Homo sapiens: one gene and its partner. The protein of the gene in region 1 interacts with the protein of each later gene in a pairwise test. Each region holds a gene or a part of one and is shown in the gene's direction. Other genes may lie near its edges.

The links.
Region 2: the proteins of TNIK (region 1) and WWC1 interact in a two-hybrid assay, tested with the Homo sapiens proteins (2 studies listed by BioGRID and IntAct).

The regions. Positions count from the first base shown.
Region 1 is NC_000003.12:171,082,906-171,086,405, reverse strand, and holds part of TNIK (TRAF2 and NCK-interacting protein kinase), read left to right. Parts: intron 1-1,176; coding exon 1,177-1,288; intron 1,289-2,080; coding exon 2,081-2,251; intron 2,252-3,500. UniProt on the Homo sapiens protein: Serine/threonine kinase that acts as an essential activator of the Wnt signaling pathway. Recruited to promoters of Wnt target genes and required to activate their expression. May act by phosphorylating TCF4/TCF7L2.
Region 2 is NC_000005.10:168,298,145-168,301,644, forward strand, and holds part of WWC1 (protein KIBRA), read left to right. Parts: intron 1-3,500. UniProt on the Homo sapiens protein: Regulator of the Hippo signaling pathway, also known as the Salvador-Warts-Hippo (SWH) pathway.

The DNA.
Region 1 (3,500 bases):
TCTATGTGGAAATGTTAGTGCCTGCCCTACCTCTTTCACAGACATCTTCCAAAGATCAAAAGAGAACATGTACGTGAAAGTGTTCTATTTGGTAGGGGGAATTCAACCTTGAGGAGGATGAAATGGTTTTGATTTCATAGGATGGAAAGAAAATCTTGAATTAAATCAGATTAGATCTTTGTGGTTTTCTCCTTATATGTTTAGAGGTCTTGGATGGTGGTTTTATTTTTAAATAAAAACCTAACAGTAAAACTAAAGTGAAATAACCTTTAGTTAAAGATATTTATCCAAAAAAGATGTGCTTATTATGTTGAATACAGATGTGTTTATGATGTTAAAGGACAAGAATAGAAGAAATGGACATGACTGACATTGCAGCTTATTCAGCAAAACTCAAATTTAGAATATTGTGACATAAAACCCTGATATTGAGTTTACTGTTCCCTCATCTCCTTCTGACATCATGTTTTCATGGTGCCATTCAAGCCCAAGATTCATTTTTTAAAGTAAGCCTTCAAGGTACATTGCTCACAAACGTAATATCCTCATGAAGTCCCTAAATAAGGATGTAAATGTAATTATTCTTTTAAGGAAACTATCGTGGGAAGGAAATATCTTCAATTCCAGCATAAAATCATCCCTGAATTGAGGATTTTAAAGCTTTTGGAGCCAACACCAATTCACTTGCATCACCAGGCCAGAGTAGAAGGGCTCAAAGCTCTCCTCCCCAAGAGAAAGCCCCTTGGTTTGACTCTGTTCAGGATAAAGTACTGCTGTATAGGCTTCCTTACTTAGTTTATTGCCAATTATGTCAGCTTTTCATATTGATCAAGTAGTCAATATAGGAGGTTGCTTTTACTGAAAGGGAGAGGTAAGCTCTGTCACCACAGTGATCTTACAGATTTTAAGGTGCCACATGTGGTCCAAAATGTAATTTTCTCACTACAATTCTTGCAGTCTGATAATTAATGAAGTCCTACGAATGCACAATGACTAGTGAGTAACCAATACCAGAAGAAGCTGGAGACAGGCACGCACTGACTAGAGCACTAGAATGTGAACACCTGAATACCTTGAAGAATCTGTGATCGTTTTACAGCCCAAGCACAGTATTGTTAGCATTGTTATTCCTGCAGTATTTATCTGCTCTTCTTAATCTTCTTGCTTATTGATTAGTATGGCATGGGGAGCAGCACCAAAGCCTCCTTCACCCCCTTTGTGGACCCCAGAGTATACCAGACGTCTCCCACTGATGAAGATGAAGAGGATGAGGAATCATCAGCCGCAGGTAAGCAAGAAGGGCCCTGTGTTTAAAAAACAGCTTCGTCTTCCTTTCTGGTATGACCTGATAAGGAAATTAATCCTCAGTTCAGTAGTTAAGCTGATTACTGCTTAGGTCCTATCTTAAAAGGAAGACTTTTTAAAATTATTATTTCTGTAGGACTCCTAAAACAAATGTATTACTTTCCATTTTTTTTCCCATCTCTTCTATTTCGTTTCTGGTAGACCCAGGGGTACATAGGGACCCTAGGAAAAGCTGTTCCTCAGTGATCTCTGAACATAACTAAATGTTTCCCCAAAACAATTTCTGGGTACAATGTTTTACACACATTAGGCACTTAATAAGTGTATGGTACATTGTGTTGAGTTCTAGGTGTGTGCTTCCCACCACAAAGATCAGGCTGATTTAAAGGAGTCTTGCTTTCTAATCTTCTTCAAGTAATTAATCATCAAAGTCAGCTTAGGACAGTTTTTCAACTGATAAACTGCAATTTTAAAAAGTAGATCTTTTTTGCCTATATACAAGAGTGGGGATGGTGTATTTAATTTGGGACTTTCTAGACTCTGCAAGTAGTGTCTATAAGCCTGTTTTTCTAATGAATAAAAGATTCCTTTGATGAATGACTTAGACTTTATTCTACTAAAACAAAAAAAAAGTGTAAAATAAGGAGAGTTTCAGAGTTTCCTTGCCTTTACTATAATTCAAACCAAACAAGGAGAAATCATAGTGTTTTGAAGCCCCATCTCCATAAGTTATCTTTTAAGATGTCACTGACTTCTCTGATTCTTTTTCTCAAAGCTCTGTTTACTAGCGAACTTCTTAGGCAAGAACAGGCCAAACTCAATGAAGCAAGAAAGATTTCGGTGGTAAATGTAAACCCAACCAACATTCGGCCTCATAGCGACACACCAGAAATCAGAAAATACAAGAAACGATTCAACTCAGAAATACTTTGTGCAGCTCTGTGGGGTATGTTGGTGCTTTTTTTTTTTTTTTTTTTAAATAACCACTCATTAATGAACTGACCCTCAAACATTAAAAGCCTGTGGATCTTGTCATCAAAAGAACACTGGTTGAATCCTGGGTATTAGAGACCTAACTTGGGACTATCTTGACCTCAGGAGAAACCAAAAGGAGTTTTATATGTAGAAATAGCTGATACGCTACTAGCCAGGAAGACGAGATTAGATTCAGAGCAACCTTGTCACACAATAGTGATAGGCTAAAGCCAACAAGAGAACTAGCTACCACTGAATACATTGAGTGGGCAAAGCAAAGCCTATAATGTGATCAATCAGAGGCGATTTGTGTCTGGCACTTTGTGATATACCCCACGTTCATTCTCCATGATCCATACCACATCCTGCAAGGGGAATATGAGCATAAATAATGGCATAAACCTTTATTTCAAGCTGAAAAATCAGCCCAGAGTATTTTTGTGAATTACTAAAGGTCATAACCCTAGCAATAACAAGATAAAACTTGAAAAGAACAACAAATAATTTAATGAACTTTCCCTTTTAGTTTAAAACATCAATCTGCATTTTCTCGTGAAAAAGATCTGCAGGTTTTAGCTGACCTCAAACTCAGGAGAGGCATGATGAGATTCTATCAAAGTCTTGGTCTGTGTTACTATAAACATCTCATACAGATTAAGGAAGGACATGTCCCCTGTGTACCCACTGAAAATACTAGGCTTGGATTGGGGAACCATAATTTTAAAAGGCTGAAAGCATTTGAGATGTTAGCGGGGAAGAGTGTGAAGCCTAGGAACCATTTCATGATAGAGGCTCTGTCCTCTGGAGAAGAGACAGAAGAGAACAAGATAGCCACATTTAATACTGAAAGGATTAATATATGGACAAAAAAGCAGACATTTGTGTTGATCAGAAGATAGAAGTACAAGACGTAAGAGAAGTTAGAGAGTTACATGTTCATGAATAAAGTACACTGCACAATGAGCCTCTCAATGTGTGTGTGTGTTGAGGGGTGGATGATACATTTCCCTAGCCATAAATTTTTAGGATTACAACTACCCAGACAAAGCCACTTATGTGCCTGTGCTTCTGTAATAGGGATTACTGCATGGGTGTTGGGCTGCACTAGATTTAGAGACCTGAGAAGTCCCTTAAAGTGAGTATGTCTGTGACTCTCCAGCTATTAACACTTCTCTTGAATGGGTTTATCATTTCCCTAAAAAAGAGCAAAAACTTGAGGG
Region 2 (3,500 bases), on another chromosome or scaffold:
TCTCGTGCCTCAGCCTCCCGAGTAGCTGGGATTACAGGTGCATGCCACCTCACCCAGCTAATTTTTGTATTTTTAGTAGAGACAGGGATTCACCATGTTGGCCAGGCTGGTCTCGAACTCCTGACCTCAAGTTATCCGCCTGCCTCAGCCTCCCAAAGTGTTAGGATTACAGGTGTGAGCCACTGTGCCCCACCCAACAAGGTTTCTTAAGTGAGAGTTATAACCAGTCTGCCAGGGAAGTTACCCAGAACCTCTTTATTCTCCATGCTGCTGCTCTTAATGATCCACTAATACCTGTAGATGTATAATAATAATACTTACATACAAGTGATTAGAGGGCTTTTTATCTTTTTCTGAGGCTTGAGTTTAAGATCTACGTATTCCATGGGAGTCTACCATGCCTGGGAACATCCTATGTCAATTATTAAGAAAGAAATGAGGTTTAAAAACACTAGGATAGATAATAGGGAGAAGCAAGAGATTTGGTAACCCAGAGAAGAATAAAATAATAGTCAATACCAGCATCTATTGAGTGTTTACTCTCTGCTGCCCACTGAGCTAAGCATTCTATTTTGTGACCTCATTTTATCTTTTCAACAGCCATATGGGGTAAGTACTTCAGATGAGGGAACTGAAATTTAGAAAGGTTAAGTAACCGGCCGGGCGCAGTGGCTCACTCCTGTAATTTCAGCACTTTGGGAGGTCGAGGTGGGTGGATCACCTGAGGTCAGGAGTTCAAGACCAGCCTGGCCAACATGGTGAAACCACGTCTCTACTAAAAATGCAAAATATTAGCCAGGTGTGGTGGCACGCACCTGTAATCCCAGCTACTCAGGAGGCTGAGACAGGAGAATCGCTTGAACCCAGGAGGCGGAGGTTGCAGTGAGCTGAGATCGCGCCTCTGCACTCTAGCCTGGGCAACAAGGGCGAAACGCCATCTCAAAAAAAAAGGTTTAGTAACTTGCTCAAGATCACCAACAGGTGTTGCATCCAGGACTGGAGCCCACCTAGCTGGATTCTTGCATCTACACTCATACTAGCTGTAGCCTGGTCTGGCTCTGTCCTGGCTTATTAATCCATCTCAGGGCCCCAGAGTGCCCTGTTGACAGCTGGGCTTGAGAGTTACCATTTATTCTTAAAATGGGTGAACCTGATGTGGATCTCAGGGAGAGACTTTGCTAAGGAGCCTTAACCAGAGAAGCCAGTGAGATCCTCATGGCAGCTTAGGAGACTGTTTGGCATAAACTCCACCTTCTGGGAGCAGCTGGCTAACCAGAGCTTTGGGGATGGGAGAAGAGAGAGAGATGGAGGCAGAGGGACTCTTTGAAGGATGCAGTGTGTACAAGGAGTTCACAGTCCTTTCCAAGTCGCTTGGGTAAATGCTCCCAACAGCCAGGGAATGAGTAGCCAAGGCCGTTCCTCTCTGTCGCCATCCCTCCCCCTCCCGGGGAGAGGGCTTATCCAAACTGACCCAATTTTCCAATTCCCTGGGGTCCCAGATTGCTGTGAGAAGAACACTGCCCTTTTGAAGGGAAGAGAATCAGGTTGCCTTAGTTACCTGGAAGGTTGGCACGCCAAGTTCAGGTGCACGTAAGGAGAAACAGGGCTAGAATAAGTGTGAGTCGAAGGTGGCCACCGTCTTGCTGCACGGTTCCCTCAGTGGCAGAAGCCTTGATCAGGCTTCAGTGGCACTTGCAGGGAATGCCGACCTAATGTCAGGTGGCTGTCCATGACGTGTATCAGGAGCTCTCTCCAGCCACATGTGGTGCTAGGTGATGAGGCTCTGCAGCCTCCAGTTCAGCAAGGGGCCCTGGATAAGAGGAATCCACTTCACTTGGAGAAGTGGCCTGGTGACATCCCTATCACCAGCTCCTCGCTATTTGCTAAGGGAAGCACCTCCACTTGGACAGGGCTGAGGGCTAGATCTGGGCAAAAAACTCCCGTCTTGCCTCTCCCAGCATGGAGATGGCCAGCTGGCTGCACACCTTTAGGTAGAACAGCAAAGGTTCAGTTGCTGCTGCCTCGAATCCGTTTCAGAGTGAGATAAAGAAAGAGAAAACTAAGAAACTGGATACAGTGACATTTTGTTATTAGACCTTCCCCAGCAGGCCATTTAGCCTTTAGTTCCTGAGCAGAAAAATAATAATGGGGTGGCGGGAGGAGGGGGCAGGCGTTCACTGTTGTGTGCGGAGAATATTCTCTAAAGATGCAGGATGGGGAAGAGGGGGTGGAGCAGAGAGTGGGGAGGAGGGAAAGAAAAAGGACAAGTGTGGTGGGTCACATGCCCATTCTCCCCACCCCCCACCCCTTGCCAGTTGCCTGCTCAATGCTTCTACCCATGACATCTCACTGTTGGGAAGAAATGAGATCTTTCAGTTTCAAATGTCTGCCAAAGAAAAGGGACGGAGGCTTAAGTTCTCACTCAATGGTCAGCCAGAAAAAAAAAAAAAAATGAAGCTGCATCAAGATTAGGGACACCTTTGTTGGCTTTTTTTTTCTTCTCTTGCTCCATTCATCACTCTCTGGCAGCGAGGACACCAGGCCAACTGCAGCTGCTGACTTTCCCCAGTCGGCTGCCTGCTGTTGCCCAGGCCTGTTTTGGTAGCAACCCCCACACTGGCTTCCTCCCCGCCCAGTGGTGGTTACTTGTTGGATTCGTCCCTGGGGTAGCCCCTGGGATCCACTGACGGGTAACAGACTTGGAAGGATAAAATGTCAAGATGCAGGCATCAGGTGGCTGCTAGGATGAGATGACCCTGGGACAGCCTTCCAGTCCTACATCTGTCGTGGCTTTTCTTGGAGAGTCGGGCTGTGAGCATTTCACTGTATTCCAGGAATTTCTTCTAAGTGCATTGTTTGTCTTTGTATCACTAACAGTGAGAACAATAACTGGCACCTGGTGATAATGGTGATAAATAATCATGATTGTCTTTAAAGATCCTTATCCATTGTCTGTCACGTGCCAAACACTATTGCTCATCATATTTTTATGGCATTTTGCAAATGAGGAAACTGAGGCCGAGAGACAAGTCAAGTGACAAGCTCATTTTTCCACTATGGAAAAAAATGTGTATGTGTTTGTTGTTCCACCCAAACATGGGATTGCATACCACACGATTCACGATTCCCTGTAGTAGATAAGCTCTCCATAAAGATCATTAGAGGACACTGAGTCAAGTCTGGCTTTGTCACTTTAAAATAGTAAGTGGGACTGGGTGCAGTGGCTGACACCTGTAATTCCAGCACTTTGGGAGGCCAAGGTGGGTGGATCACCTGAGGTCAGAAGTTCAAGACCACCCTGGTCAACATGGTGAAACACCATCTCTACTAAATATACAAAAAAATTAGCCAGGCGTGGTAGCAGGCGCCTGTAATCCCAGCTACTCGGGAGGCTGAGGCAGGAGAGTCGCTTGAACCTGGGAGACGGAGGTTGCAGTGAGTCGAGATTGTGCTATTGCACTCCAGCCTGGGCAACAAGAGCAAAACTTCGTCTCAAAAAA